4 linked regions of the Homo sapiens genome follow. The protein of the gene in region 1 interacts with the protein of each later gene in a pairwise test. Each region holds a gene or a part of one and is shown on either strand. Other genes may lie near its edges. The genes, in order: AGR2, RTL4, PRPF18 and CNNM3.

What was found.
Region 2: the proteins of AGR2 (region 1) and RTL4 interact in binary tests that used the Homo sapiens proteins (3 or more experiments, as listed by UniProt).
Region 3: the proteins of AGR2 (region 1) and PRPF18 interact in binary tests that used the Homo sapiens proteins (3 or more experiments, as listed by UniProt).
Region 4: the proteins of AGR2 (region 1) and CNNM3 interact in binary tests that used the Homo sapiens proteins (3 or more experiments, as listed by UniProt).

Annotation. Positions count from the first base shown.
Region 1 is NC_000007.14:16,788,430-16,795,454, reverse strand, and holds the end of AGR2 (anterior gradient protein 2 homolog precursor), read left to right. Parts: intron 1-435; coding exon 436-519; intron 520-2,497; coding exon 2,498-2,547; 3' UTR 2,548-3,644; downstream 3,645-7,025. UniProt on the Homo sapiens protein: Required for MUC2 post-transcriptional synthesis and secretion. May play a role in the production of mucus by intestinal cells. Proto-oncogene that may play a role in cell migration, cell differentiation and cell growth. Promotes cell adhesion.
Region 2 is NC_000023.11:112,077,443-112,087,989, forward strand, and holds the start of RTL4 (retrotransposon Gag-like protein 4), read left to right. Parts: upstream 1-5,573; 5' UTR 5,574-5,675; intron 5,676-10,547. UniProt on the Homo sapiens protein: Involved in cognitive function in the brain, possibly via the noradrenergic system.
Region 3 is NC_000010.11:13,624,965-13,634,695, forward strand, and holds the end of PRPF18 (pre-mRNA-splicing factor 18), read left to right. Parts: intron 1-5,295; coding exon 5,296-5,376; 3' UTR 5,377-5,895; downstream 5,896-9,731.
Region 4 is NC_000002.12:96,833,268-96,835,882, forward strand, and holds the end of CNNM3 (metal transporter CNNM3 isoform 1 precursor), read left to right. Parts: 3' UTR 1-2,115; downstream 2,116-2,615. UniProt on the Homo sapiens protein: Probable metal transporter.

The sequences.
Region 1 (7,025 bases):
AACTCGTTTTGAAAACTAGCATTGGATGTGGGTTTCCAATGATCTAGAAACATGTAAACTACAACATAATCGTTTCAAGAATTTAAAATAATTTTGCAGTAGAGAATGTTAATGTTTTCACCAAAAAAAAAAAAAACACCATGTCACCCCTAAATATATATTATTCTGTTTTCAGGTTGCCATAGATAGAACAGAAGGGTTCATAACCTTTTCCACAAATAGCACTGCACAGCTGTTGATGTTTCCAGCCCTGCATTTGCTACTAACTGCCAGGGGCTGGGTAGTAGAGTGGATGGATCAGAGCTCCTGTGAGTGCAGACACACTCCATTCCCTCACAGGACATGAATACATGAACTTCAGCTCCCCGGGGCAATAAATACAGGTTGTTTGAAAACAAACCATTCCATTCCCTTTTGCTTCATTTATCTTTGCAGACCCATCTCTGACAGTTAGAGCCGATATCACTGGAAGATATTCAAATCGTCTCTATGCTTACGAACCTGCAGATACAGCTCTGTGTAAGTGTGACCTTCAATTCGGATGTTGCCCAAGAGTTGAACACCTCTATTGCTGTAGTGATGGGACTAGAGGCTGCATGGTGAGGTGAGAGAGAGCTAGGCTTAGGGACGCCTCGGACTCAGTTTGACCCTAACTAGCCTTGCATCTTCAGGCAAATCACACTCTTTCCATCTCAGGTTTGTTTGTTTTTAATCTCAATTGAAGATGAATTATTTAGATTAGGTATCTTTTTCTCTAGGAGGATTCTATGACCACATTACCTGATTTTCAGGTTTTCTGTTAGGTACACGAGCACACACTCCTTCTATCACAGAACTGAGTGTAATAATTGTAATAATCTGCATGTCTTAATTTTTTAAATAACAAAAGTGAAAGAATGTGCAGTCCAGCTTAAAATTAAATTCAGGTTCAGTTTAAAGATCAGTTTCAAAGATGATCCAAATGATTGCCAAGAAAATTACCTTCCCTATGGTTGCCATCAATGGAAGAGAGACAGAGAGAGAGAGAGACACTGACTTAAGGCAGATGAGGTACCTCAATGCAACGCTGTAGCTAGCTGTGACATCTGATTAGTCCTCTGGGAAGAAAAGTGGGTTTTATCCTAGGAACCAACTCTGATCAATTAGTAGTGGCTGCCTAGAACTGCACTGTCCAATATGTTAACCATTTGCCACATGTTGCTACTTAAGTTAAAGTTAGAAATTCATTCCTTCAGTCACACTAGCCATATTCCAAGTGCTCAATGCCCGGACACTGAACATTTCCATCATCACAGAAATTTCTATTGGCCAGTGCTGACTTAGAACGTCATGTTGGGAAGAGAAGTGAGGCCGTGTCTAGGAAGCAGGAGAGATCATCATGGTCCATTAGCAATGTTTCCAGTGTGTGCTGGACCAGGGGAAGCACATTCCAAGTACTGTCAGCCATTACTGAGATAATACCATACATTTTAATAAGACTAAGCTCTTAAAAGGCACGTGTCCTACACAAGTAATATCACAATCCCTTGTAGAACAGGCACTTAATAATTAAGATTTGTAGGAAGAGTGAATAAGCGGCTGTTCAATGCCTATCGAGTGGACATCTTATTTTTAGTAGATCACATACCTCATTTTGATGAATTGCTGTTGAAGAAACAGTGACCCAGAGTTTGGGCTCTGGAACAGTAGCTCCATTACTTGTTAGCTGTGTGACCTTGAGCAAGCTACTCAGCCTCTCTCTGCCTGTTTCATTATGTATATATAAAGTTCTAATCGTGTTTGTATGAGGATTAAAGAATTCATCTGCATAAAGCACTTGGTTTGCTATTATTTATATTTCCCCTACTTCTAAAACAATTTACACACACCTACTAATAGACATTTCTTTTAAACATGATTTAAATTTACTTCTAAATGAGCCAAAATTATCTTCTGCTGCTAGAGCTTATAAAAGGATTCTTTTGGAAGTGAGGGTTGGAGATGAAGGATCTGGGAAGGAATGACTACACTAGAAAACTAGATTGTCACAAAAGCCATTTCATATAATTTTTTTAAATTACAATAAGATTACCAACTATTCACCTCATGATAAAAAGCATCCTATCAGGCTGGGCACAGTGGCTCACGCCTGTAATCCCAGCACTTTGGGAGGCCGAGGTGTGTGGATCACTTGAGCTCAGGAGTTCGAGACCAGCCTGGCCAGCATACCAAAACCCCATCTCTCCCAAAAATACAAAAATTAGCTGGGCATGGTGGAGCACACCTCTAATCCCAGCTACTCAGGAGGCTAAGGCTGAAGAATCACTTGAACCCAGGAGGCAGAGGTTGCACTGAGTGGAGATTGCACCACTGCATGCCAGCCTGAGTGGGAGTGAGACCTTGTCTCAAAAAAAAAAGCATCCCATTAAATAATGAATTGAGCATCCAAGTTTGGGGTTTATTATATCGATATAACGCACGATGGTGTCTTGACTCTCCTGCTTTTATCCCCCATTAGTGCTTGACAACATGAAGAAAGCTCTCAAGTTGCTGAAGACTGAATTGTAAAGAAAAAAAATCTCCAAGCCCTTCTGTCTGTCAGGCCTTGAGACTTGAAACCAGAAGAAGTGTGAGAAGACTGGCTAGTGTGGAAGCATAGTGAACACACTGATTAGGTTATGGTTTAATGTTACAACAACTATTTTTTAAGAAAAACAAGTTTTAGAAATTTGGTTTCAAGTGTACATGTGTGAAAACAATATTGTATACTACCATAGTGAGCCATGATTTTCTAAAAAAAAAAATAAATGTTTTGGGGGTGTTCTGTTTTCTCCAACTTGGTCTTTCACAGTGGTTCGTTTACCAAATAGGATTAAACACACACAAAATGCTCAAGGAAGGGACAAGACAAAACCAAAACTAGTTCAAATGATGAAGACCAAAGACCAAGTTATCATCTCACCACACCACAGGTTCTCACTAGATGACTGTAAGTAGACACGAGCTTAATCAACAGAAGTATCAAGCCATGTGCTTTAGCATAAAAGAATATTTAGAAAAACATCCCAAGAAAATCACATCACTACCTAGAGTCAACTCTGGCCAGGAACTCTAAGGTACACACTTTCATTTAGTAATTAAATTTTAGTCAGATTTTGCCCAACCTAATGCTCTCAGGGAAAGCCTCTGGCAAGTAGCTTTCTCCTTCAGAGGTCTAATTTAGTAGAAAGGTCATCCAAAGAACATCTGCACTCCTGAACACACCCTGAAGAAATCCTGGGAATTGACCTTGTAATCGATTTGTCTGTCAAGGTCCTAAAGTACTGGAGTGAAATAAATTCAGCCAACATGTGACTAATTGGAAGAAGAGCAAAGGGTGGTGACGTGTTGATGAGGCAGATGGAGATCAGAGGTTACTAGGGTTTAGGAAACGTGAAAGGCTGTGGCATCAGGGTAGGGGAGCATTCTGCCTAACAGAAATTAGAATTGTGTGTTAATGTCTTCACTCTATACTTAATCTCACATTCATTAATATATGGAATTCCTCTACTGCCCAGCCCCTCCTGATTTCTTTGGCCCCTGGACTATGGTGCTGTATATAATGCTTTGCAGTATCTGTTGCTTGTCTTGATTAACTTTTTTGGATAAAACCTTTTTTGAACAGATCTTTTGGCATTATTAATTTTTCCAGGGATATATTTTCAATCTTTTCTATCTCTCCTAGTGACTACTATCATTAGTAGGTGTTGAGCATATACTGCTGATTTAATGACATACAAATCTTCAGCAAAAATATCACAGGTTAATCAGCTCCCTTCTCACAAGTAGATAACTTACATGTGCTGAAAAAGGTAAAACATTCCATTTAAAAAGATCTCTGAGGGATAACAAGAGGAAAAAGAGGTTTCCCTTCCATAAACAAATATTTTAAATGACAAGTTCTAAGTGATTCAAGTTTCTCCTATAGTATAGCAAAATATTTTTTCATTGGGCGGACGTGAAATAAGGTTAACTTCTTAAAATGTATTGAATGGCAAAATATCTTAACACATACAAATACTTTTTAAATATAAATAAATATTTAGGAAATCAAATGTTACAGCTGTAAGGAAAATAAGTCCCCCTTTTAAAAGCATTGAAGAAACACAAAGCATGAGTCATTAATTGACTTTGTCCCATCAGTCTCCTCCACCACTGAGAATTTATCCTAAGGAAATCATTCAACAGAAACAGTTCTGTCAAGATGCCAATGGTAACATTATTTAAACGTACCACAGAAAAGCAACCTCCCAAAAATATAATGGCCACATGGTATATTAAGACAAAATGCAGTTTTTTAATCCTGTCTAGGTGAGTAGTCATAAAAATTCTTCTCTCCCTCCCCCTCCCCCTCCCCCTCCCCCCCCCCCCCCTCTTTCCACGGTCTCCCTCTCCCTCTCCCTCTATTTCCACGGTCTCCCTCTCATGCCGAGCCGAAGCTGGACTGTGCTGCTGCCATCTCGGCTCACTGCAACCTCCCTGCCTGATTCTCCTGCCTCAGCCTGCCCAGTGCCTGCGATTGCAGGCGGGCGCCGCCAGGCCTGACGGGTTTTCGTATTTTTTTGGTGGAGATGGGGTTTCGCTGTGTTGGCCGGGCTGGTCTCCAGCTCCTAACCGCGAGTGATCCGCCAGCCTCGGCCTCCCGAGGTGCCGGGATTGCAGACGGAGTCTCGTTAACTCAGTGCTCAATGGTGCCCAGGCTGGAGTGCAGTGGTGTGATCTCGGCTACAACCTCCACCTCCCAGCCGCCTGCCTTGGCCCCCCAAAGTGCCGAGATTGCAGCCTCTGCCCGGCCGCTACCCCATCTGTGAAGTGAGGTGCGTCTCTGCCTGGCCGCCCATCGTCTGGGATGTGAGGAGCCCCTCTGCCTGGCTGCCCAGTCTGGAAAGTGAGGAGCGTCTCTGCCCGGCCGCCATCCCATCTAGGAAGTGAGGAGCGTCTCTGCCTGGCCGCCATCCCACCTAGGAAGTGAGGAGCGCCTCTTCCCGGCCACCATCCCATCTAGGAAGTGAGGAGCTTCTCTGCCCGGCTGCCCATCGTCTGAGATGTGGGGAGCGCCTCTGCCCCGCCGCCCCGTCTGGGAGGTGAGGAGCGTCTCTGCCCAGCCGCCCCGTCTGAGAAGTGAGGAGACCCTCCGCCTGGCAACCGCCCCATCTGAGAAGTGAGGAGCCCCTCCGCCCGGCTGCCACACCGTCTGGGAAGTGAGGAGCGTCTCCGCCCGGCAGCCGCCCCGTCCGGGAGGGAGGTGGGGGGTCAGCCCCCCACCCGGCCAGCCACCCCGTCCGGGAGGTGAGGGGCGCCTCTGCCCGGCCGCCCCTACTGGGAAGTGAGGAGCCCCTCTGCCCGGCCAGCCGCCCCGTCCGGAAGGGAGGTGGGGGAGTCAGCCCCCCGCCCGGCCAGCCGCCCCGTCCGGGAGGGAGGTGGGGGGGTCAGCCCCCCGCCCGGCCAGCCGCCCCGTCCTGGAGGGAGGTGGGGGGGTCAGCCCCCTGCCCGGCCAGCCGCCCCATCCGGGAGGTGAGGGGCGCCTCGGCCCGGCAGCCCCTACTGGGAAGTGAGGAGCCCCTCTGCCCGGCCAGCCGCCCCGTCCGGGAGGGAGGTGGGGGGGTCAGCCCCCCGCCCGGCCAGCGGCTCCGTCCGGGAGGGAGGTGGGGGGGGTCAGCCCCCCGCCAGGCGAGACGCCCCATCCGGGAGGGAGGTGGGGGGTCAGCCCCCTGCCCGGCTAGCTGCTCCGCCGGGAGGGAGGTGGGGGGCTCAGCCCCCTGCCCGGCCAGCCGCCCCATCCGGGAGGTGAGGGGCGCCTCTGCCCGGCCGCCCCTACTGGGAAGTGAGGAGCCCCTCTGCCCGGCCACCACCCCGTCTGGGAGGTGTACCCAACAGCTCATTGAGAACGGGCCATGATGACAATGGCGGTTTTGTGGAATAGAAAAGGGGGAAAGGTGGGGAAAAGATTGAGAAATCGGATGGTTGCTGTGTCTGTGTAGAAAGAAGTAGACATGGGAGACTTTTCATTTTGTTCTGTACTAAGAAAAATTCTTCTGCCTTGGGATCCTGTTGATCTATGACCTTACCCCCAACCCTGTGCTCTCTGAAACATGTGCTGTGTCCACTCAGGGTTAAATGGATTAAGGGCGGTGCAAGATGTGCTTTGTTAAACAGATGCTTGAAGGCAGCATGCTCGTTAAGAGTCATCACCATTCCCTAATCTCAAGTACCCAGGGACACACACACTCTGCCTAGGAAAACCAGAGACCTTTGTTCACTTGTTTATCTGCTGACCTTCCCTCCACTATTGTCCTATGACCCTGCCAAATCCCCCTCTGCGAGAAACACCCAAGAATGATCAATAAAAAAAAATAAATTAAAAAAAAAAAAAGACAAAATGCACTATGTTGTCATCCATAAAAATAATAAACATAATGGCAAAACAGAAAAGGCCTAAGTAAAAAAGAATTTAAGACCTTCTATGCTATAATTGCAACTACAGGAAATGTGTACATACAAGGTTAAAAACAGAATTGAGGTCAATCGTGGTGGCTCATGCCTGTAATCCCAGCACTTTGGGAGGCGTATCGCTTGAGCCCAGAAGTCCGAGACCAGCCTGGCCAACATGGAGAAACCCCGACTCTACTTGAAATACAAAAAAATTAGCCGGGCACAGTGGCCCATGCCTGTAATCCCAGCTACTCGGGAGGCTGGGGCATGAGAAACCAAGGGAGGCGGAAGTTGCAGTGAGCTGAGACCATACCACTGCAATCCACCCTGGGTGACAAAGAGAGGCTCTGTCTCCAAAAAAAAAAAAAAATAGAAGATACAAACATGGTTGTTCTAAACTCATTGAAATATTAGCAATGTCTGTTCTTTCTACCAAATCCCTCTTCTGTCATCTCACAATCTATCATTTGCATTTAAATAAATTTCAAGTGAAAGTATATCTTGACTACTTCTCTGACTACAGAGAAGTAGAAGAGTACTAGAAGACTGAAGAGTGCTATTTCAAACAGCCAAAT
Region 2 (10,547 bases), on another chromosome or scaffold:
CCCGGTGCTTCTCAAATTTTAGTATAAAAATGAATCACTGGGGATCTTCATAAAATGCAGATTCTTATTCAGTCGGTCTGGGGAAGGATTTGAGATTCTACATTTATAGATAGCTCCCAGGGGATGGTGGCAATCCTGGTGTGGGGACTACACTTGGAGTAGCAAGGCTCTAGCTCACTACATCCTAGCCTTTTCCCTATCCTTGTGATATTCTCACTCAAATGTGGAGGTTTTTCAGATCATCCTTCTGGGCTGTAGTAAACATGTTTGCATTGCTCTATTTTCTCAGATCCTAAAATAAATTAGGGTGGGATTAATGAAAATTAGGCAATAAGGCTAAAGAATGGGGGAAGGTAAGAATATCCGTCTGCAAACCTTTCCTTCTTCTTGTACTCTGCTCTAAAAACCACCTGCCTTATCTTTTCTATTTTCTTTGTTTTAATTTTTCGGAAAGAGTGTGACTGTATGTGCATGTTTGTGTGTGTGTGCATGTGTGTGTATTTGCACATGCATTTGGGGGGCTGATTCTGAGACTGAGTATACTAAACCAGAGCCATAGTCACTGGATTCTGCTAGCTTCCATTCCCCAAAACTACTATGGTGCAGAACAGACTGGGATTTCTAGATGCCTTGCTGTTGGTGGTGTGAGCCAGATCAGACACATAAATGTGAGCAGCTAAATTTTTGTCATGTTTAATTCTGCCTTCCATCTGAATACGCTAGCTATAGACACATATAATGTTTTCTTAGCTAGCAAGATAGGATTGTGTGTGTGAGTGTGTGTGTGTTAGGGGGAGGTGGTGGTCAAGAAGGTAAGTCACAAAGATATGACAGCAGCATATAATATAAACACGTATACATACATATGGAATGGAAGTAGAGGGCTGTGATCTTGGTAAACTTGACTTTAGTTACCTCTCGATTTCTTGGGAAGATCTCCACAGAACTTCAGAAAATGTATTTCGTATCAGCAAACAGTACTGGGTTGTGGTTTTGCCACTGTTGTTAGCTAGTAGTCTGTTTTAGGCAGGTCATTTCTACTCTCTAGACTTCAATTTCTCTATAGGTGAAATGAGAGGATTGACCCCTCCAAGATCCCCGCTTGTTTCTTATCGTTATTTTTTCTTTCCTTTTGCTAAGGCAAAAACCTGGGGCAATTGCATTGGCCACCACCATCCAAGGGCCAACTCCAGAATTGGTGACAGAAAACCAAACCTAAGAAACTTGCAAAGTTCCCTTCACCCAGCAAATTGCAATTTTTCTTAGCCCCTATCAGCTTTTATAATTTCTTTAAATCATCTGTGCTCACTCAGTTGAGCATGATGTACATGTTTGTTTATAAGACCACAGTTGAGTCATTCAGGAATCATTCCTTGCTGGCAGTATGGCTCTGCTGGTCTCACTGGACAAAGTTTGAGGGGCCCATCAACAGAAGAAAAGCTTCGTGAGTTTTAGAAAGGATGACACTGTGGATATGTCAGCTACTAGGCTCTGGACATGATGGCTGGCCTTAGCTTATCCCTCATCTGTGGGATGAGGAATAACTTCTGCCTAGAATGAGGCTTTATTTCTGTCTATAGGCTGCAAACTTTGTCATACCTTTCCCTGCAAACCTGGCAAATGACTGGGCCAGATTAGGCCAGTGGCACCTTGTGGCACAGAGTACTTTGGGGAGAGAGATTCTGCGCCTTATATTCTTCATCAGTTAGCAGGAGGCATCTGAACAGCTTAGTATACTAAGGTGAAAACAGGAACCTTTGGCAGAAGTAAAGCAGGCAGAAATGCTTCAATCTACCACCTTCAGTGATGGAGCCATGGCAAAAAATAAATTAGAATATTCGAAAACAGGCTACAGGAAAGCATCATGACACATTTGAAATATCCATTCAATAACTAAGCACCTGAATGGCTTGCAGATTGGAATTTAATATTGTAAGGAGAGAAATGAGACAGCAACACTGAGAATGTACTCCAAGGTTCCCAATTCCCTGGTACTATGGAATTCTATCATTGTTTACACAGTGTTTGCAAGTCAAATACAGGCAATTTTAAGATGCTTCACATATGAGTTGATTTCTGGATTAATTCCATTCCCAGTCAAAGCAAACACCTGGATAGTTTTCTTTCTGTTTGTTTCAAAACATCTTCGGTTCTCTCATATTCCTCTCATCTTCCTCCCTTCTGCATCTCTAATTTCCTGGCCTAGTCTTCTCTAAGTACTGTGGTTCTGCGTGCCATTCCGGTTTTAGTTGTTAGCTATAGAAAGAACAGAATCTTAGGATTATAGCTCTTGTGGCTGGGAAGGATGGCAGATATCTGGTTCAGGTCTCCATGTTGAGATGTACACTGAAGCCAGGTGAATTAGTATCAGTGAAGCCGGGGGCTACATTGGTTCTGAATCCCTGAACCTGCTCACATGCTTATCCCCTGGGTAACCATCAGGACTTACCTCAACAGCCAGATACTCACATCACCAAGAACAGAGCAAAACCTACACTGTAGGCTTCATTCGTGCTGATATTTTGAGTTTTTCCCCAATTATGATGCTGCCAGTTCTTTCCTACCTGTCTGCAACCCGGTCTTTAGTATATCTATTTGAAAGTGTAATTTTAACCTAAGAAAATACTTACTATGGTTGCTTTAAAAAGTAACAGAATGGGCACCTTTTCAGATCCTACTTGAGTAATCCTCATTCTGCTCTCTCTCAGCAGTGAACATTAGAAAGAATTGCCTGATGCAACATAAACAGTTTCACTTAATGCAGAATCCGTTTCTCTTATTTGCTGAGTTGGAAAGAGGCAATTCATTGCATTTTGGTAACATAGTAATAAATAGAAAGTTTAACAGACGAACCTGGGTGCTTTGGAAGCACAAATTCACCTCCTGCTCCCCTCTGTTACAAAAGCAGAGCCAAGATTGTATGGGGTTGATTGAGGTCCTTGAAAAACTACATACACACACACACACACACACACACACACACACACACACACACACAGATTTTCTCTCTCTCCCTATGTATATTGTGAAAGTTTATGAAAACAGCATCTTCCAGGGACCAAAATGTGGATTTTAGGTGACATTCAATTCTTCCTTCGACCTCACAGAGAGAGCTTCAGAGACTCCTTGACCCTGTGGGTTTCTTTTATCCCAGACTATATATTTGCTTTGAAACGAACTTCGTACTATGTAAATATATTAACATGCCTTTTGATTTAGAATAAGCAGATTTTAAAGACATGATGAAAGGTACCATGTGACATCATTTATATCTCAGTTTTTAAAGAGTTTATGGGAAAGGAGACATAATATAAATCATCAATAAAACATCAAAAAACCTATGACACCAACAATAGACAATTATGAATGCTGATATATAAATCTGTCATTCTTGTTAAATGCCATGAAGATAAATATATGGCAATAGAAAAGTGGGTCTGGGTGTGCCATGTCAATGTTGTAATCATTTCACATTTGAAGCCAAGGGTTAACATGCACAATCTCTAAAAAGAGCATTATCAATTAGTCTATGTCTCTCCTACTCTTATAATAAACTCGGGTAAAGTTCAGAGGTTCTATCTTTCAGGCTGGTTTCCCCGCTTCAGGCTTTTCCTGAGGGAGTAATAACCTTGCTAAACACTTAACCATCACCAGGTACATGACTGCGATCCAAAGAGCCCAGGTTGTAATAGGGAAAAAGCCCTTCTAGTCTCATTCTAAGAGACCATGGAGAAAGATCAGCATCTGTGAATTCAGCTCAGTACCTGCATATGTGGGACATGATCATGACCATTTGTCCGAGTCGATGTGTGTCTAGGGAGGGAGGGAGGTGTCCACTTTGAAGCAGAGATCTGACTGATGCCCCTCCATTTGCATTTCTTGGTTCCTTTAAGGAAGACAGGCAAACAAATCTGGCCATTTCTTAAGTTTGAAGGATACAAGACAAAGAAGGTAAATGGGGACCCTGGTTCCTGAACCTTCATGATCCGGCTCCTGGCTCTCTATTTCTGAAGGTGGCTTTTGACGAAGGGCAGGTATCCTTGGTCCGAGGGCCACACTAATCGATTTTAAGGAGGCCTGGGAGCAGGTTCCCCACGGATCTTAAAATCTACCCAAGAATGGAGCAAATCATTGTCCAGGGATAGGACAAAGCTGTGGTTCAGGAAAATATTCCCAGTGAAAGGATGTTTTTGGTCATCGCAGGCAGCACCTTGTCCTATCAACCCTGGAGCTTCTCCCCATTGCATTTCCTCTTCCAAAACAATCTGTTGCTGGCCTCCCTCTGCTCCCTACCACCCTGAGCCCACAGCCAGCCAGTCAATGCTTCTCCGCCTACAGCAGCCCAGCATCTTCATTCAACCCGCACTTCGCTGCCCCTTGCCCCTCAGCAGCACTCAGGCAGTGAAATGGACCGCACCGGCCGCCTGTAGACTTACCCTGAGCCAAGTGGTTTTTTCGGATAAAATCTGTGTCGTCTGGATGTCCACCGGCCAGGATGCGTGGTGCGGCGCCTTGCCGGACTCCTCTTTTGCGGCGCGAAACAGCAGCCGACTGGGACAGCCCGGGGCCTCTAGGCTGATGGGTGGGTGGGCGGATGAGCACAGGGAAAGGGGCGGGGTGTAAAGACGAGCGCAAGTACTGGCTCCTACCTTGGCTTCCCCTTTGGATGCTCAGTTATTGCCAAACTTGCCTGTAACAGATCGGCCCTCCTCACCTTTCACCTTCGCCAGTGCCCTGAAACTCTTTGCTCTACCAATGTCCCTACCCTGTTCTCCCAGCTCTCTAACCCAACCTGAGCCCCTTCAAGCGCACCCACTCCCTTCACGCAGCCAGTCACACACAATAAGAGCTAGGGAAGAAACTGACACGGGGAAACTGACAGGGGTAGCTGACACTGTAGTGTGAAGGAGAGGGAGAAGGAGGGAGGAAGGAAGGGATGGAGAGAGAGGGGAGAGAGAGAGAAAAAAAGAGAGAGAGCCGCATTCACACTCTTACACGCACACTCAAGCTCCAGCTGTTAGGTAGCGGCTGGCGGGAGCGCTGGCTACCCCTCCAAAACCCTTTTCTACACTAGAGGTTTCTGTCCCCTTCTGCTGCCGTTTCTGGAATATGCTATACAGAGAAGGGGAGAGAAAAGCAAAGAGGGGTGGGGAGGGGAAAATCAAGGAGGCACGCTCCCTTTATCCTCCCCACCCCTGTCTCCAAAAATGTCCAACCCTGAGCTCTTCCTTTTCCCTTCTTTCTGCGCCCGGCTTCCCTCTGCTCCTGTTCTTTATTCCTCCCTTTGGGGTGGCTGCGAGCTGCGGACAACCCGTCGTGGTTGTGATGTGGGGTGTGTGTGTGTGTGTGTGTGTGTGAGAGAGAGAGAGAGAGAGAGAGAGAGAGAGAGAGAAAGAGAGAGAGAGAGAGAGAGAGAGATTGAGACAACCGTGGTAGGCAAAAGCACCCCTCACCTCCCCCAGCCCCCGGGCCGAAGCCACTCTCAATCTCCTGGCGGCGGGGCGGGGCGGGGGAGGCGGGGAGGCGAGAGGGAAAGAGGGAGGACGGGGCAGGCGGCAGGGGCAGCAGCTCCTGCCTTCTTTGCAGCTCCGCGGCCAGGGGTGGAAGGAAGCCGCAGCCGCAGCCCCAAGTCAACCCCCGCTGCCCCGTCCCACCGTCTCATCTCTCCCCCCTCGGTACGGAATTTTCTGTCTCGTTTGTTTGCTTCCCCAGACCTCCCCCTCCCCTGGGTGGTGGCAGAGACGGGAGGGGAGGTGGGAGGCTAAGCGCGGGTGCGGGTAGAGGGGACAGGAGTCCCTCGGAGCATATGGCTAGCAGAGTCTCTCTTTGCCCCTTGGCCTGAATATCCCCTGCTTTGGGCAGTGACCTTTGCCCACCCCCGTCAGCCTGGGCTCTGGGCCGGTGGTGGCGAGGCTGCTCCGGCGACCATAGGTCATTCAGGAGGAAGGGGAGTTGAACCTGGGGGAGTAAGGGCGGCGGGCGGCTGGTAGGACAGGGAGACAGCGGAGCGCTGAGTCGCCAGGGACTGACCTGGGGTCCTATGGGGCAGGCTTGGATCCCTGATAGATCTAGATTAATCTAGTTGGAGCTACCTAATTCTCCCATCCGTGCCCCTCTCACCCATAGGGTCGATCTCCCAAGATCCAGCCTAGATTGATACAGGGAGGGAAAGTGATATTGTAGGATGGGGGCGGGGGGCTAGGTTGCTTAGTGGTATCTGTTGTGGAGGGAGAGGGGCGGTGTCACCGGACACTTGGGCCACTCTTTGATCTTTACGCCTTCCTTTCACATGAAGCACCTCTCCACTTCTTTCACCTTATAGCCTGGCGCTCAGAATGTCCACCCTCTTGAGCCCAACTGGAAGGGGCTAAATAGCCCCACCCCCACCACAAGCCTGAGACTTCTACCTGCAACCTGCAGGCGCATAGGTCCACTAGCTGGCAGCATTTCATGGCCTGGCCGCACAGCCCCAAATATTGGCTTTGTCTTTTATCTCCCTTCCTAGCGCTCTCAGGAAAGGGGCATGTGAGTCTCTGCCTTTCTGGACGCCGGGCTGGTACCTGAAAACCTTTCCCTACCCATTCTCAGAACAATCCCTAGCTCTGAGAAAACTCCACTGTACTTCCTGTTGCTCTTTAACCCCCTCTGCACGCCCTGGGAGCCTAAGTGTAAGCTCCCGAAAATGCCAGAATCATCTCCCTTGCCTAAATGGCCGAGTGTTTTCATTGCGGAGCCTGTGAAGCTGGTAGTAGCTATGTTTAGTGGAAGCCCTAAGCACTCTCCTCCTAGCCTACCTTGGAAAAGTCGCTCGGGGCACCAAGCAAGACAAATTTTCCCCTTGTCGTTAGTCCTCCTAGTCCCGAGGCAGTCCAATATTCTGGAGAGTATTTAGCTTTTGTATGGGAGCAAGGTATTGGAGAAAAGAAAATTATTACCCTGGGGGATGAAGAGTTTGTGTCTGGGGGGAAGGGAGTTGGGGAGGAAGAAGTGAGGGTGGAGCTTCCACCTCTTAACAACTTAAATACTTCAGGAAGTGTTTCTAAAGATTGGCCAAGAGGGTCGCTGAAAAAAAAAAATCACTTGATTCTTTGCCTTTCATTCAAAGGCAGTTTTACTGTGAACCAGCAAACTAATATACAGTCTCCCAAACAAGGGAGGTCTATGTTGTGATTAAGCCGTCTTCCCTTTGGCATGAGGGTGAGTAGAATATGTGACCGTGGATAAAACTTTGGGGGCATTTCCCTTTTTTTAGCCAAACTGCAGTCCAGCTGAGACTTCCACTCCAAGCCCAGATGCAACCAGAAGCAGTGCTCAGGGAGAGCAAAAGCCTTATTCTTGTGAGCTGTTTCCTTCAAAGGCCCTATATCCAATGCACTTGTCTTTAACATATGAGGACTGTGTGTGCTTCTGAAATTTGGAGCTTTCCCAGTGGACTGTGGATAAGGTTAAAATTTCTTTCTCTGCTCCTGCCCTATCCTGTTTCTGCCCTATCCTTCTAACCTCTTCAGATCAAGGATATATAAAGAAAAATCCTTTCAAAAGTTAAAAGCACCATACAAATGCCAGGCATTACTATACGAATTCCAAAACAAACTTAGCAGAGTATCTCCTAGTGCAATTAGAAAGCTGACTTAGGCAGGGACCCAAGCTTTGTCTAGGTTGCTTGTCAGCCTTGGGGCTGGGTGGCTCATCTTCTCTGTCAATAGGGACATATTCTGGTTTTCCACTTGGTGGCTGAGTGTGTATGTCTCCCAGGGTAGTTTGCACCTAGAGGCTACATCTGCAAAAGTGGCTCAAAGCCAAAAATGGAAGCCACTATCTGACTAATTTAAGCCCAGAACTACCTAGCTTCTAGACTAGGTTTACTTACATGGCCTGGCCTATTCAAATACCATGACAGGTATGACTGTTAAAATGTAATTGAGACATACTCTTTTCTCCTCTCTTCTTACAGCCTTGACCATAGTGGTAAATGGTATATGTAGACCAGAGTTTAATGTAACATCGTAGGTGAAGAGAAACTGTTATGAGGAATCCAGAGAGTGGGGTTTTCCCAGTCATTAAGCAGGGTTTCTCAACCTCGATGCTATTGATATTTTAGGCCAGATGATTCCTTTTGTTGGGGGGCTGCCCTGTGCATTGTAGAATGTTTAGCAGCATCCTTGGCCTCTGTCTGTTAGATTCCAGTAGGAACCCACACCCCATTTGTGACAACCAAAAATGCGTCCAGGCATGGCCAAATGTCCACTGGGGAGCAAAATTATCCCCTCACCATATAGAATGAGTGCCATTTAAGGTAATGTCACATTTCAAAGACCATATTTTAACCTTAATTCTACCCACATGGCATGTCCAGACTTTGCATTGAACAGAGTCTCAGAAAATAATGAATATTTTGTGAGGAAACGACATAAAAAGGAACCCTCACAAATTAGCTAAGTTTTGACAAATGGTGGAATTCATTGTTATCAACAATGCCATCTTCTGGTTACCATCAAATTCTTGTCAAGCACACACTATGAGTAGGGTATTGATTATAGCAAAGATCTGTAAGACATAATCCCAGCCTTCAGTATGCTAAGAAACTATTGACCTTTCTTTCCCCAAGGGGAAAGGGTTACTGATTTTCATAGATAACCAATTTCTGGATTGAATCCAACCTGGCTTTTTCCCTCTTCTATTTCCTATTTGTCCCCAAACAGTGGCTTATTGTTTGAGGTTCTGCCTTATAGAGATTGCATTTTGTTTTGCTAATTAGCATAGTCCTACAACAATTTTTTGTGACTTCTCAGCGTGTGGCATTTGTGTCATAACACTGTATCCAGCATAAAAATGACTACAACATCACAAAGGCTGTAACAAATTGAGCAATTTGAAAGCAGGTTTTTGTTTTCAAGGAAAGTTTCTAACTACTTGCATGCTAGAGAAATACTCAACAATGGCAAAAGCAAAAGAAATGGAATGTAAAAAGAGGTGATTCTTAAAATACTGTGGAGTGTTGAAAAAATATCTCAGTGTGATTATGGGTTTTAACACTCAGCACTATCTCTACCTCAGGAAGTCAAACAACACTAATGCAAGTTGTAGGATCTTGATCAGGAATTCAGCAAAGGAAAATGCAGGAGAAAGCATGGAATATCTGTTCAAATCAGTTGAGTAAGCTCCTGCCTTAGAAAATAAGTTTCCGGTGAGCCAGGCAGGACTGCATCAGTGTTACTTGCTTTGGATAATTCTTAGCCCAATACCACGTATATATATAGCAACATGTCACTTATAAAGACTAATGCAGGAACCAACAATTAGCACATTCAAACTTTACACATTCATACATTATGATGCTATTGCCAAGACTAATTATTTATTTAAATAAAAGTTTTGCCTGAATTGGGACGACGAATGACTGTAATTGAAAAATATGTTTCATTTTTCAAGAGAACATTTAAACTGTTATATCAGAATGGGATCCCTGTAATCAAGGGATAAAGCCTTACATTAATTAATGATTAATCTTAATAAAAGATGTGTAAACAGAGCTTCACTTCATGGATTAGCTAAGGACTTTGCTGTCCTCACCATTAATAGCAATGCAAATGGGGCCAGCTCTGAGCAAATTTGTAAAGTGTAATTGCAGAATCATAGGACATTGCAGAATATTGGACCATTGAGAAGCACCTTGCCTGAGGTTAGAGGATAGTGACAGAGAAGGCTCCAATTGTGTCTTGCTGGTCTGTGACTGACTCTGTGGGACCTCAGGAAGAGTAGGTTTAGTCTTTACTTTGCCTGCCCCCTCCCCAGCTTATTAAAAACTATCCCTCATGGAATGATATAATCTGTCCTAATCACTATACTAATGTGTTCCCTCTCCCAGGAGTAGATTGGTCTTCAGCTTTTTTTTTTTTTTTTTTCCAATTGTGGGGAAAAGGGCTCTATCTCTTTAATGAAAAGAGTTCAAGCATGAGGGAACATGTATGTCCTTGGGATGAGGACTTCCTGAAGCTCCTAAAAATCACCCCAACTGCAGATCATGTTTTATAAAATCTATGGAGGCTGGGAGTAGGGCCAAGAAATTTCAGCATTTCTCTCCGGAAAGTTTGTCATTGTGAAGGAGTAGTTGGTGAGCCATGCTTTATTCTTGATCAAAGACACAAGTCCTTATGGACAGAGTAATGAGAGGCGAGCTATGGGAGGTTCCTACAGAGTAGGTGGTGGTAAAGGGTGTAGGCTTTGGAGTCAGACCTGGGTTTGAATTCCAGATTCATGTTTCTTAGCTATGGAAATTAGGTTACATGGACTTTGGTTTGCTTATCTGTAAGCTGGGGACAATGACTCACAGTGTCGTTTAGTGGATTTAATTGGATAATGCATAAGCCTAGCACAGAGCCTAATATATAGCAGTAGCTCACTAACTGCTAATTTCCTTTCTTCTCCCTTTCTGCCTTTTTGTATTGAAGTGACTCATAACATAAAATTAATCATCTTAAACTATACAATTTAGTGACATTCAGTATATTCACAATGTTGTGCAACCTTCACCTCTATCTAGTTCC
Region 3 (9,731 bases), on another chromosome or scaffold:
AACACACAGAAAAAAAGACCTTCATAGAAACAGAATTATAGAGAACAGAAAAAAATTTCATTGAGAATGATAATTAATATCCTTAGAGGCCAAGCGTGGTGGCTCATGCCTGTAATCCCACCACTTTAGGAGGCTGAGGTGGGAGGGGTGCTTGAGACCGGGAGTTCTAGACCAGCCTGGGCAAAATAGATCCCTTCTCTACAAAAAATAAAAAATTTAGCTGGACGTGGTGGTGCATGCCTATTCAGGAGGCTGAGGTAGGAGGATTGCTTGAGCCCAGGAGTTTGAGGCTGCAGTGAGCTAGGATCGTGCCACTGCACTCCAGCCTGGGTGACAGACGGGTCTGAAAACAAAACAAACAAAAAAATTCTTAGGTAACGTTGTAGCCATGAAATAAGAACATTAGGCTATAAAAAAGTTTGAGAATCAAAATGAACTCTTAAAAATTAGCAAAAATTTAAATCAGCAAAAATTTAGTAATTACATTAGTGGGTTAGAAGATAAAGTTGAAATATGAAAAGCAGGAAAGGTAAGAAAATAAGAGTCAATCTATAACGTTTATAGCCATTACAACAGAAAAGGGAAGATAGGAAATAAAGAATTAATGTAAGAAAACGTCCCAGACCTGAAGGACGTGAGTTTGTAGAATGAAAAGAATTCACTTAATACAGCGCAAATGAATAGGAAGAGTTCACATCAAGGCACAAAAGAATGCATGTTGGAAGGCCAAAGCTAAAGAGAAGATTTCAAAGACTTCAGAGAAAAGGTCGCTTACAAAGGTGCAGGAATTAAAATACTGTCATACTTCTCACTGATAGCACTAGAAGGTAGAAGACAGTAGAGCAGTACCTTTGCAATAGCTAGGGAAATATTGTCCAACTCAGAATTCTCTTCCTTTCTGAACCATCAAGTGAAGGGTAAATATAGGCTAATGACATCTCCCATGCACACATTCTCTGTAGTCATTATCGTCATAGCTGACACTTAAGTAGTGCTTACTGTGCTTCCCTTCAGTACTTTACAGCCACAATATGAGATGGACACTCACATTTCCCTGTTTTGTAAGTGGGGAAGAGGCGTAGAGAAGTGAGTTCTCAAGGTCACATGGCTAGTCAGTGGTAGAATTGGGATTGGAATGTGGGCAGTCTTGACTCTACCTGAGGATGTCCTCCATCCAAAGAAAAAGATCCAAGAGCTGAGATCCACCACAGAGCAAGGCGAGAGGAATCCCCAGGCTGGAGCTGCAGGGATGTCATGCTCCAGGATGGTAGCAGTACAAGTGGGTCCAGGTTAGAGTAGATGGTTGAAGGACTCCAGGAAGAAATGGAAGAGCTTATATTCCCTGGCATGTCTGATCAGATCCTGAGTGATGTTTGGGCATGTGAGGGTAGTCTCATGTTGGAGAATGGATTAGAAAAACAAAACAAAAAGGGGAAAAAAACTTATGAGAGGTCATCATCATAATATGTTATGTGGGTTTGCTTTGAACGATATTTGTGTAGCCTTTATAAGGAAAACCCTGAATATTGATTTCACTAAAAATGTGGTTTGGGGAGGATGTGGGAGAAAGTGCTTTTGAGGCGTGTGCGTGCATATGTGGGGCCAGTGGACAGTGGTGTAAGAGTGAGATATCCTCTGCTTCATAGTAGGAAGTCAGGAGATATCACTAATATCTGGTGGAAAAACCAAGCACTGTCAGTATAGTATTTAGAAATGTGGCAATAAATGCCAGAGGAAACACTTAAAACGTTTGAAAAGGGTTGCCTGTGGAGAGCTGGAATTAGGATTTGGAAAGAGTGAGGTAGAGGACTGCTATTATTTGATACAAGAATCGTGTGATTTTTTTTTTTTCCCCTCAAACAGTGTACACAGAAAACCCGGAATTATCCTTGGCTTTTTTCTTCCTGTCACAACCCATATCCTATCCATGTCAAAGCTTGATGGTTCTATATTCAAAGTATGTCTGGAGCCCGATCCCTTCTCACCACCTTCCTTGCTGCCACTGGGTCCAGCCACCACCTCTCATCTGAATTATTCCAGTGTCTTCTCTCTGGTCCCTGAGTTTCTCTTATTGCTCCTCTCCAGTTTCTTAGCAGCATTCCCCAGACTGATCCAGTTCACATACAGTCAGATCGTGTTGCTCTGTTGTTCAGAACCCTGCAGGGGCTTCCTAGTTCACAGAGTCCAAGCCAAAGTCCTTCAGGTTGCCCCACACGTCCACTTACCCCACTTGCCTGCTTTATTTTCTCCAAAGCACTTAGCATCGTTGAAAATTTTTTTTTATGAATTTATTTTGTTTCTTGCCTGTCTTCCCTTACCACAATTCGATCTCAGGAGGGTGGGATTTTTTCTGGCTTCTTCGCTACTGTATTTCCAGAGCCTAGAACAGTATGTATAGTAGGCACTGAATAAACATTTGTTAGATAAGGGTATTGCCTTTATATAAATAAAAAGCCAATTAAAAATACCACAAGTTTTTAAGCCATTTGCCATAAGCTAAGCTAAGCAGCTCATTGTTTTACTGGCTTAAGCATCCATAAGCAGTTTGAAACTGAAATCCTGAGGGGTCTAATTGAAAAGATTTGTTTCCATCTGGAAAATAACGATATTCTGTCCTGAGATTACACACCTATCTCTGCCATGCACTCTCAAATCTTTTTTACAAAAATGTATCATACCGCTCTGTGGTAACTACTTATGACTAAAACAATTGAGTTTCACAACCCTTGGCAGCTAAGATTTCAGGGAGAACACTAGTATATGTTTTTAAATCATAGAATCTGCTTAGTGAGTATAAATAGGCATCACACACGTCTTCTGTAAGGAGCACACACCTAAGATTCCAATTCTTCTGACATGGGGAAAACCACCTCCAAGGCAAACCATCAGTTTGCCTTCCGCTTGCGCATAACAATTCTTGCCATGCTCTGCTGCTGAGTGAAGCTATTTGTATTTCATCAGGGTGTTCTCTTGCCTGACTTTGCCCCTCTTCTCACCTATTCCTTCAGGAACCTTAAGATGCCAAATTAGTGCTATCATCTATATTTCCATGGCTACCGATCAAAGTTCTGCATACACATGATTAGAATTCACAGCAGGATAAGCTGGACTATGTGATGGAATGGTCTTTATCCCAAAGCAAATACCTGATTACACAGGGAACAACAACAACAAAAAGGAGCCAAGTGAATGACGTGTGCAAAAGCCCTTCTTGTGAATCAGTTGAAAGATAACCTCCCTCCACACCCCTAATTCCTAAATCTCATAATGTGGGCAATCCTTGAATCCACCAAGGACTTTAAATACTTCACAGTCTTGTTTCTCTGATGTGGAATCTGTTAGATTATGGCTCCATTCATAGAAGTATGTCATTTGTCCCTTAATATCCTCAGGGATTGGTTCCAGGACCCTGCAGATACCAAAATCTGGATGCTCAAGTCCCTGATAGAAAATGACATAGTATTTGCATATAATCTATGCACATCCTCCTGTATACTTTAAATCATCTCTAGATTACTTACAATACCCAACACAATGTAAATGCTATTTAAATAGTTATTATATGATATTTATTTGTATTATTTTTAATTCTTTTTTTGTTGCCGTTTTTTTCTGAATATTTTTTAACCAGGGTTGGTTGAATCCATGGACACATAACCCATGGATACTGACTGTGATTAATATTTGTGTTGTCTGCTTACTATGGGACCAATGAGATTTTGCAGGGATTTTTGTGTTGTTTGTTTGTTTTGGTGATTTTATTGAGCTTAACAGGTGTTAAGTTACGTAGATTTCAGTAAGACCTTTGGCAAAGTCTTTCCTTGTAAACAAGGAAATGTGTGTGTTAATGAATTGCACAGTGAATAGGATTCATTGCTGGTTACAAACTCTTCCCAAGATCGTTTTGGAGAGAGCTCAATCGTGGTGTGTCTCAGGTCTCTGCCCTTGCCCTGGCCTGTTTGCGCACGGTATTGAGTATTTGGATAATGACTTAGAGGACATGTTTACCGAGTGGTGGATGAGAAAGCTAAGAAGAATAACTAAAGCTAAATGTCGACCAAGGATTCTGAAAGATCACAGACTGAAGGATGAGTTGAAAGAGACAGGATGAAATTGAATAGTGATAGTTGTTTTCATCAGCTTAAAAAATCTAACTATAAAGTTATACACTGGAGAACTGGCCAAACTGCTGTAGAGACAAAAGGCACTTGAATTTTGTGAGATCGGTGGGAATTAGGTGTGTGTATTGTAGTTGTCTAAAAACAGCTAAGGGTCTTGGTTACAGTTGCCAAGATACAGAACAAAAGTAGTGCAGTGACTACTTCTAGTGAATTCTGCAAGAATGGCCAGGTCACGCTTGGAATGTTGTACTCAGTTTTTACTGACATATTAAAGTGGTTTTATTGTGTAATATTTGGTACATACAAAAGAATACATGTAAAACACAAGTTATAAAGTAAGTAATAAAATGAATGTCTAAAAGCCTTACTCCCAGTTTAAGAACTAGAACATTCTGAAAACCATTGAAACAATATTGTCCTTCCATACTCCAGAAGTAACCATTACCTTGCACTTAAGTTTGTCATTTCCTTTCTTTTTGAAAAACCGTTCCACCATGTTATATGTGCATTTCTAAGTAATACATTTTTTACTTGTTTTTGAATTTTATGAAAAGGATGTCACTGAAGGTAGTAACACTTCATGCCACTTGCTTTTTACTTTCGACATTGCTTCTAAGATTCATATACATCGGCCTTTCCCAACCAGAGCCCCTCATCTTGACCACAGAACACAGAAAATAATTGGAGTGTATTTTCTCAGTCCTCCAAACATGATACATAAATAGTCTCCTAAATTTTAGATGCATAAGGGAGAAGTTATCTCGTTACATACAATGGATGCCTTAGGCTGGGCATTTGGAGCTTAATTCTCTATTGGAACCTGGTTGAGACTGGCCGAATTGTTACATGTAGCTAGAGTTAATTCATTTTTACTGCTGTAAGATATCCCATTTGTGAGCACACTAAAGTTTTTTTCATATGTCCTCCTATGGATGGAAATTTGGGTTGTTACCAGTTTTTTGGTTTTGTTATTGTGAACAGTTCTGTGATGAACATTCTTGTGTGGACCTGCAGGTGCACAAGAAAAATTTCTCTAGGCATACATCTGAGTGAATTTGCTTGGGTCTGCTGCATTTTATGGGGACATTGACAAACTGATAACGAGTTCAGAGGAAGGCAGTTAAGAATAATTTAACCATGTCATAACCAACCTTTGTTTTCCTTATTTTCTTAGGGATTGAAGAGGTTAATGACCATTTGCCAGAAACACTTTCCTACAGACCCATCCAAATGTGTGGAGTACAATGCACTGTGAGATCTGTGTATGGTGTGTTAATAACAATAAGAAACTTAGGGAAGCAGGCTGTGGACTTCTGGAATTACCAACAGGAATGAGGAAAGAAGAAAACTGGAGTTTCCAGTCTCTGAGTTCTACCTGATGTAACTCTTGATTGGTTTTAAGAACTTTGTTGGCCTTCATTTCATATCTGACTGCAAGCTGATTTTTCTTTCTTGCTTTCATTTTAATTAGTCCAAAATTAAGTTTTAAAGATTTTTCCTCACAATTTAAATCCATAGACAACAGAAGGGGGTTTAAAATGACCTTTTTTTCAGTTGACCCGAAAGTTGTGGTTAGATGATTAAAAAGAAACATTTGAGGATGGACTTAATTATTTCAGTAAAATATTATAATTTGCCTATTGTCTTTTATGTAATATTTATATAAAATATTTTTATATATTTCAAAAACATGGGACCATTGAATGAAACTTTATAGTCCTTAAATGTTGCTGAACTTTTGCTGTCTTGCAATAGAATTTGAATGTAAATATTATTACTGGTATAACTCAAATGTTATTTTTCTTGCATTTCAAAGCTTGCTTTTATCTTCCAAGAAGTGTAAATTTTAGTATTTGTCATCTCTCAGGACAGATACAATTAATAGGAAATAGAAGTTTGAAGAAACAGAGATGGCACATCATAGCAAACTAAGTTCAAAACAGAATAACCCCAGTGCATCAAGGTTAAGGTGGGACAGTGGTTTGTGATGCCAGGGAGAGTGGGGAAATTGTGATGATGCTGGTAGACCTGGGCAGACTGTGTTCCCAGCCACACCCGCCAACAGAGGAGGAAGGTGCTGGTACTGATGTCCCCACCCGAGAGTCTGTCCTGGCCTTGGTTTTCCACAGTGAGGGCTCGTTCTAATGTTGCACAATGTCATACTCAGATATCACTGTGACCTGTTACTATGCTTTAGAACCCGAGAGGCCTCTGTTCACATGGCAGCATGTGTGAGTGGATGCTCCCGGAGCAGGTGGAGTGGTGGCGCTGGATAGCGGTAAGAGCGGGGGCTCCAAAGGCAGAACTTCCAGCTTCACATCTCAGCTCTGCACCTGCTCGCTGTATGACTTTAGCAAGCAACTGGATCTTTCTAAGCGTCAGCTTCGTTGTCTTAAATGGTAGTTGGTAATAATAGTCCATGCTTCGTAGCATCACTTTTGTGTTCAAGCAGAATGCTGAGCACACTGGCAAATAATAAGAGCTCGTAAATATTAGTTGTTGTGTCACTGTTGTCATTAGAGGGAAGCCAGAGTCCCTTTCAGGAGCCCTGTGTTTAGGGGCAGTGTGTCCTCACAAAACAATAACAGTAATAATGATGGTGTTAGCAGCAACAGCAGTAATCATGGAAACGTTGATTAAGCATTTACTGTATCTGAACCCTGCGGCTGTTCCTGCTTTCAGCCACTTCTGCATTGAGAAGGGCCGGGGATGTGGTGGAAGCTAGATGTCACCAAGTAGGGGGATGTAGATTCACAGCGGTCTATTCTGGTTCCTCTTGGGAGGTTCAAACCTTGGGGAGGTTCAAAAGCCAGTTTTGGCCACTTGTGCTCTTCTGCTGTGCCTAGACAGGATCGTTTCTGATGGTTATATGCATGGTGGTGGCTGAGGTCCGCTGTCTGGAATTGAATTGGGGTTCCTTGCCTCCCACTCCCTCATTTGGAAACCTTTTCTTGTTATTAAATCAGTTAGAGGGGGCCAGGCGCGGTGGCTCACGCCTGTAATCCCAGCACTTTGGGAGGCCGAGGTGGGCAGATCACGAGGTCAGGAGGTAGAGACCATTCTGGCTAACACTGTGAAACCCTGTCTCTACTAAAAATACAAAAAATTAGCCGGGCATGGTGGCGGGTGCCTGTAGTCCCAGCTACTCGGGAGGCTGAGGCAGGAGAATGGCGTGAACCCAGGAGGCAGAGCTTGCAGTGAGCCGAGATCGTGCCACTGCACTCCAGCCTGGGCAACAGAGTGAGACTCTGTCCCCTCCCCCCCGCAAAAAAAAATCAGTTAGAGCTTAGTGTAACTTACCAGCGCAAGTGAGAGACAGACTTTCGTAAGATATGACAGCAATCTAGATTTTTTATATAGGACCTATTTATAAATATTGTTGAATGAGTACTCTCCGAGTTACTTTTTCTGTATTCACCATCAGGTCACACAGTAGAGTAGTTCATTAATTTCTTGTTGTCTTCTGTTTTGCAGTTAGTTAATGTTCCATATAAAGAAACTGTCATGTGACACCAGTACCTCCTAAAATTGGTCAGTGTGGTAGATGGTTTAGAGAAAAAAGGAACCTGTTCCACAGGGCTGTGACCATTCGAGGGAAGCACATTCAAAGATGTAGATCCCCTCAGAGAAGTTTTCCATTTCCCTGAAGTTAAAGATCTTCAAATGACTGCAAATAACATGAGGATATATAGAAAAATGCCCTTCCCCAATTTCCAAATCGTGAAAATTTGGCTCAGCAGGTAAGTATTTCTGTTTGTAGTTGTTTATAAAACAGTGAAGACATACCTTTTAAAATCAATCACAGTCCTTAGATAAATTCCTCCCATTCTTCCTCCCCAGACTCCTATCCATTAAGAGTTGTGTCTCTGAATTCAAATTTCATAAAACACTGAGTTCCCTTCAGAAGTAAATAGTGCATTTCCTAGGAGTGTCATTGCCAACTGCAAAGACAGAGCAGTATTTTTCAGTGTTGCAGCATAGAGCCTGCAACAATCTGGAGGTTGTGGCTGTGATTTCAGTCTTTGGGGGACAATTAGGAAAGTAAAGCTAAGGCCAAAGATAATTGACATGTGGAAAGAGACAAAGGACAGTCCGAATCTCGTAGGAGGAAGGGAGCGGTCCTGAGAGACCAGAGCTAGGCAGGCAGCTGTCGCTAAGAATGGAACTTAGTGATCTGCTGTGGGCCCAGAGCGCTCAGTGAGAACTCAGAGGACTAGGAAACAGGCTTGATAGCAGTATGACTTTTAATGCTAAGCTCTGCCTTCTGGTGATATCCTGACCTACTCCAGCACTTCAGAGCACTCTAGGGTTTGATCTCAGTAAATAACTTGGAAATGCAACCACCTTTTTGTTGGAAAGAAAGTAATAATGTATCCGGAAAGAAAGCAGGTTGGAAAACACCAGTGTTTCCAAATCTTTGATAGATTTGAATTTGGGGATTCATATCATTGGCTGCTTTTCAGCCACATGTGCTCACCTTTGTACCCCCGCCTACCCTGCCCCACCCCATGAGGTTAATGCTTCACACAGAAGGATGGTAGAACGAAGTGGGGCAGTTTCAATGAAAGGGAGCATTAAGCTGAGCTCTGCCTCTTTCCTTTGTCTGCATGTCTGGTAAACACAACTTAATGGATTGTGCCTCCTCCTTCCCCCAGTATACTCCCATGAAGCCCCTAAAGAATAAGTTTATCCCATAGCAATCTATGGTATGGTGTCATATTGGGAGTCTTGAGCTGAAAAGTACTTTCTCACGGTATATTGACGCAAGAGCTTCCAGCTGTCCAGAGCGCAAGAGCCAGCGCCAGTCCCCAGAGGGTTGCTATGGGAACACTGTTATGGCAACTGGTTTTCATCACAGACTCTGCAGTTCCATTGGCTGAACTATAACCACACGCTAGTCCTTTAATGGTTAACAGTAACTTTAAAATCATTTGAAATTTAAAAATAATTTCTGGTGGTGTGGAATAGCTAGGGAGGGCAGTGTGGCCAGCCGCGCAGCTATGGTGTGAGCTGACCCCATTCAGAATATTGAAAAACATGCTCATTTAAAAAAAGAATGTATTTTTACGTTGATCAGAACAATTTATCATGAAAGCATTGATTATTTATTTTTCCCCCATTGTAAACTTTATACAACTTGCTTAAATGAATCCTTGTGTTGCCTCTGCTGGTCACTCTCACTAGGCCACTTCCTTCTGTTGAGTCTCTTCTTCCCTCTCTGTAAGCACCAACTTCCTCAACTTTTTCTCACAGTGTTCAAGCTTAACACATAATTTTACCAATGAGAGCAGCTGAGAAGTTTCGAGCTGCCTTTTGGTGATCTCAGACTCTTTCACTGAGCTTCAGGCCGGGACAGTCAAGAGTCACTCCTGCAATCCGCTGTCCTGGCCTTCCTTAACTCACAGTTTTACAACTTGCCAAAACTAAATTGCCTTTGCGGTCAACTGCTTTTCCTTTCAGACTTAGGAGATGTTAGGAACCATGAGCGTTGCAGTCTGTGCAGTCTGCGCCTGCCTTTCTAAGTTTGGCCATCCTGGGAAGTAGAAGTGTAAAAGCTGTAGAATTTGAAACTTTTGGACCACAACTCAAAACAAGTGTATGGAGACCCAG
Region 4 (2,615 bases), on another chromosome or scaffold:
TGGCCTAGTGGTGCTGAGGGCCCCTTTCTGCTTCTCTGCCCACCTGCTGAGTTGCCACTCGCAGTGTTGTCAGTTCCCGTGTTCTGAGAAGAGGTCATGCCTGGGAGGAAGGGATCGTCATGCTGCATCGAATCCTCTCTCCGCCGTGTGGCCCCCAGGAGAGTAGCTGCCTGTTGCACCTGCTCCACACCTCCCCACAGCCTCCCTGCAGGTGCTGTGTGGCCGTGATGTGCAGAGAGCAGTGAGGGAGGGTTCATGAACCAGGTGGATCCTCTTTAAAAAAAAAAAAGTTTTTGTTATATCTCTAGAACATTTCAAGTCTTTTCCTTTTTTTCTGTTCCTAGCTATGGGGTTTTAGAGAAGTGGGAACAGGAAGGCATTTGTCTTTTTCTTCTAGTTTACTACATTTTCCTTCCGTAGTTCTTCAGCTGTGTGGAAACGGGCATCACAAGGACATAGGATCATAGATTGGGTAGGGAGGGAGGAGGATTTCTGGAACTTTTCTCAAAGGAATTTGGACCCTTATAAATGGGACTGAAGGTCAAAACAACAGTGATATCCTTGCTTAGAAATTGTCCTCAAGGAATAAACTCTGAGAGCAAGCCCGGGTTGGAAACAGATGCTTTAAAATCCTCTCTCCAGAACAGTGGTTTTTTGTTTGTTTATTTGAGATGGAGTCTCACTCTGTCACCCAGGCTGGAGTGCAGTGGTGAGATCTTGGCTCACTGCAACCTCCACCTCCCAGGTTCAAGCCATTCTCCTGTCTCAGCCCCCTGAGTAGCTGGGATTACAGGTGCCCACCACCACACCCGGCTAATTTTTGTATTTTTAGTAGAGATGGGGTTTCACCATGTTGGCCAGGCTGATCTTGAACTCCTGACCTCAGGTGATCTGCCTGCCTTGGCCTCCCAAAGTGCTGGGATTATAGGTGTGAGCTAAGATCAGGGATTCTTAACCTTGGCTGCACACCAGAATCACCTGGCAAATTAAAAATACGTGGACCTGCCACCAGAGCTTGTGATTTAATCAGAGTCGGCATCAGAGTTTTCAATTTTTTATTTATTTATTATTATTATTATTATTATTATTATTATTGAGACAAGATCTTGCTCTGTCGCCCAGACTGGAGTGCAGTGGTGTGATCACGGCTTGCTGCAGCCTCGACCTCCCTGGTTCAGGCCATCCTGCCACCTCAGCCTCCTGAGTAGTAGGGACTACAGGTAGGCACCACCACACCCAGCTAATACTTTTAATTTTTTTTTGTAGAGATAGGGTCTCATTATGTTGCCTGGGGTAGTCTCGAACTCCTAGGCTCAAGCGATCCTCCTGCCTCGGCCTCCCAAAGTGTTGAGATTATAGGCGTGAGCCACCGTGCCCAGATTCACAGAAGTTTCATACACCTTTCACCCAGGTTCCCCTAATGTTAACAGCTTACATATAACCTTGGTACATTTATCAAAACTAAAGGTGCAATCATACTAATAGCTAGAGTTTATTTGGATTTTACCATTTTTCCCAATGTCCCTTTTCTGCTGCAGCAGCCAATCCAGGATGCCATACTGCACTTAGAGCTGTTGCTTTCTTTTTTCCTAACTTTATATTTTGAAATAATTTCAGATGATAGGAAGTTGTAAAGGTAAGGGCCCCACGCACCCTTCATCTAGTTTCCCTCCATGGTTACATCTTATATGGTTGTAATGCAGTATTCCAACAAAGACTCTGACACTGGTGCGATGTGGGTGGACAGTCCAAATCATTTGTCACATGTACATCTGTGTAACTACCACTGCAATCAGGATAAAGAAGTCCCATCCCCACAAGGATCTCCCTCCCCACCTTCCCTAACTCCTGGTAACCACTAATCGTTCATCTCTTCTTATTTTGTCATTTCAAGAATGTTGTATAAATGGGAGCATAGTGTGTAAGCATTCGGGATTGTCTTTTTTCACTCGGCGTCATTCTCGGGAGATCATCCAGGCATTGCATGTGTCAACAGTTTGCTCCTTTTTATTGCTGAGTGGTATTCCGTGGTGTATGCATTGGCCCCCTGAAGGACACCTGGGATGTTTCCAGTTTGGGGCTATTCCAAATAAAGCTGCTACGACTATTCATGTACAGGTTTCTGTGTCAGGATTAGTTTTCGAGGAGTGTAAATGCTTGGTCATAGGGTTGTTGCATGTTTCGTTTTTTAAACAATCAAACTTTTTTTTTTTTTTTTTGAGACGGAGTCTCACTCTTTTGCCCAGGCTGGAGTGCAGTGGCGCAGTCTCGGCTCACTGCAAGCTCTGCCTCCCGGGTTCATGCCATTCTCCTGCCTCAGCCTCCCCATAGCTGGGACTACAGGCGCCCGCCACCACGCCCGGCTAGTTTTTTGTATTTTTAGTAGAGACGGGGTTTCACCATGTTAGCCAGGATGGTCTCGATCTCCTGACTTCGTGATCTGCCCGCCTCAGCCTCCCAAAGTTCTGGGATTACAGGCGTGAGCCACCGCACCTGGCCACAAACTGTCAAACTCATGTCCTCACCGGCAACCTAGGATGATCAGTTTCCCTGAATCCTCCACAGCACTTAGTGGTGTCCACATGTTTTTACTTCAGCCGTTCTGACAGGTGTGT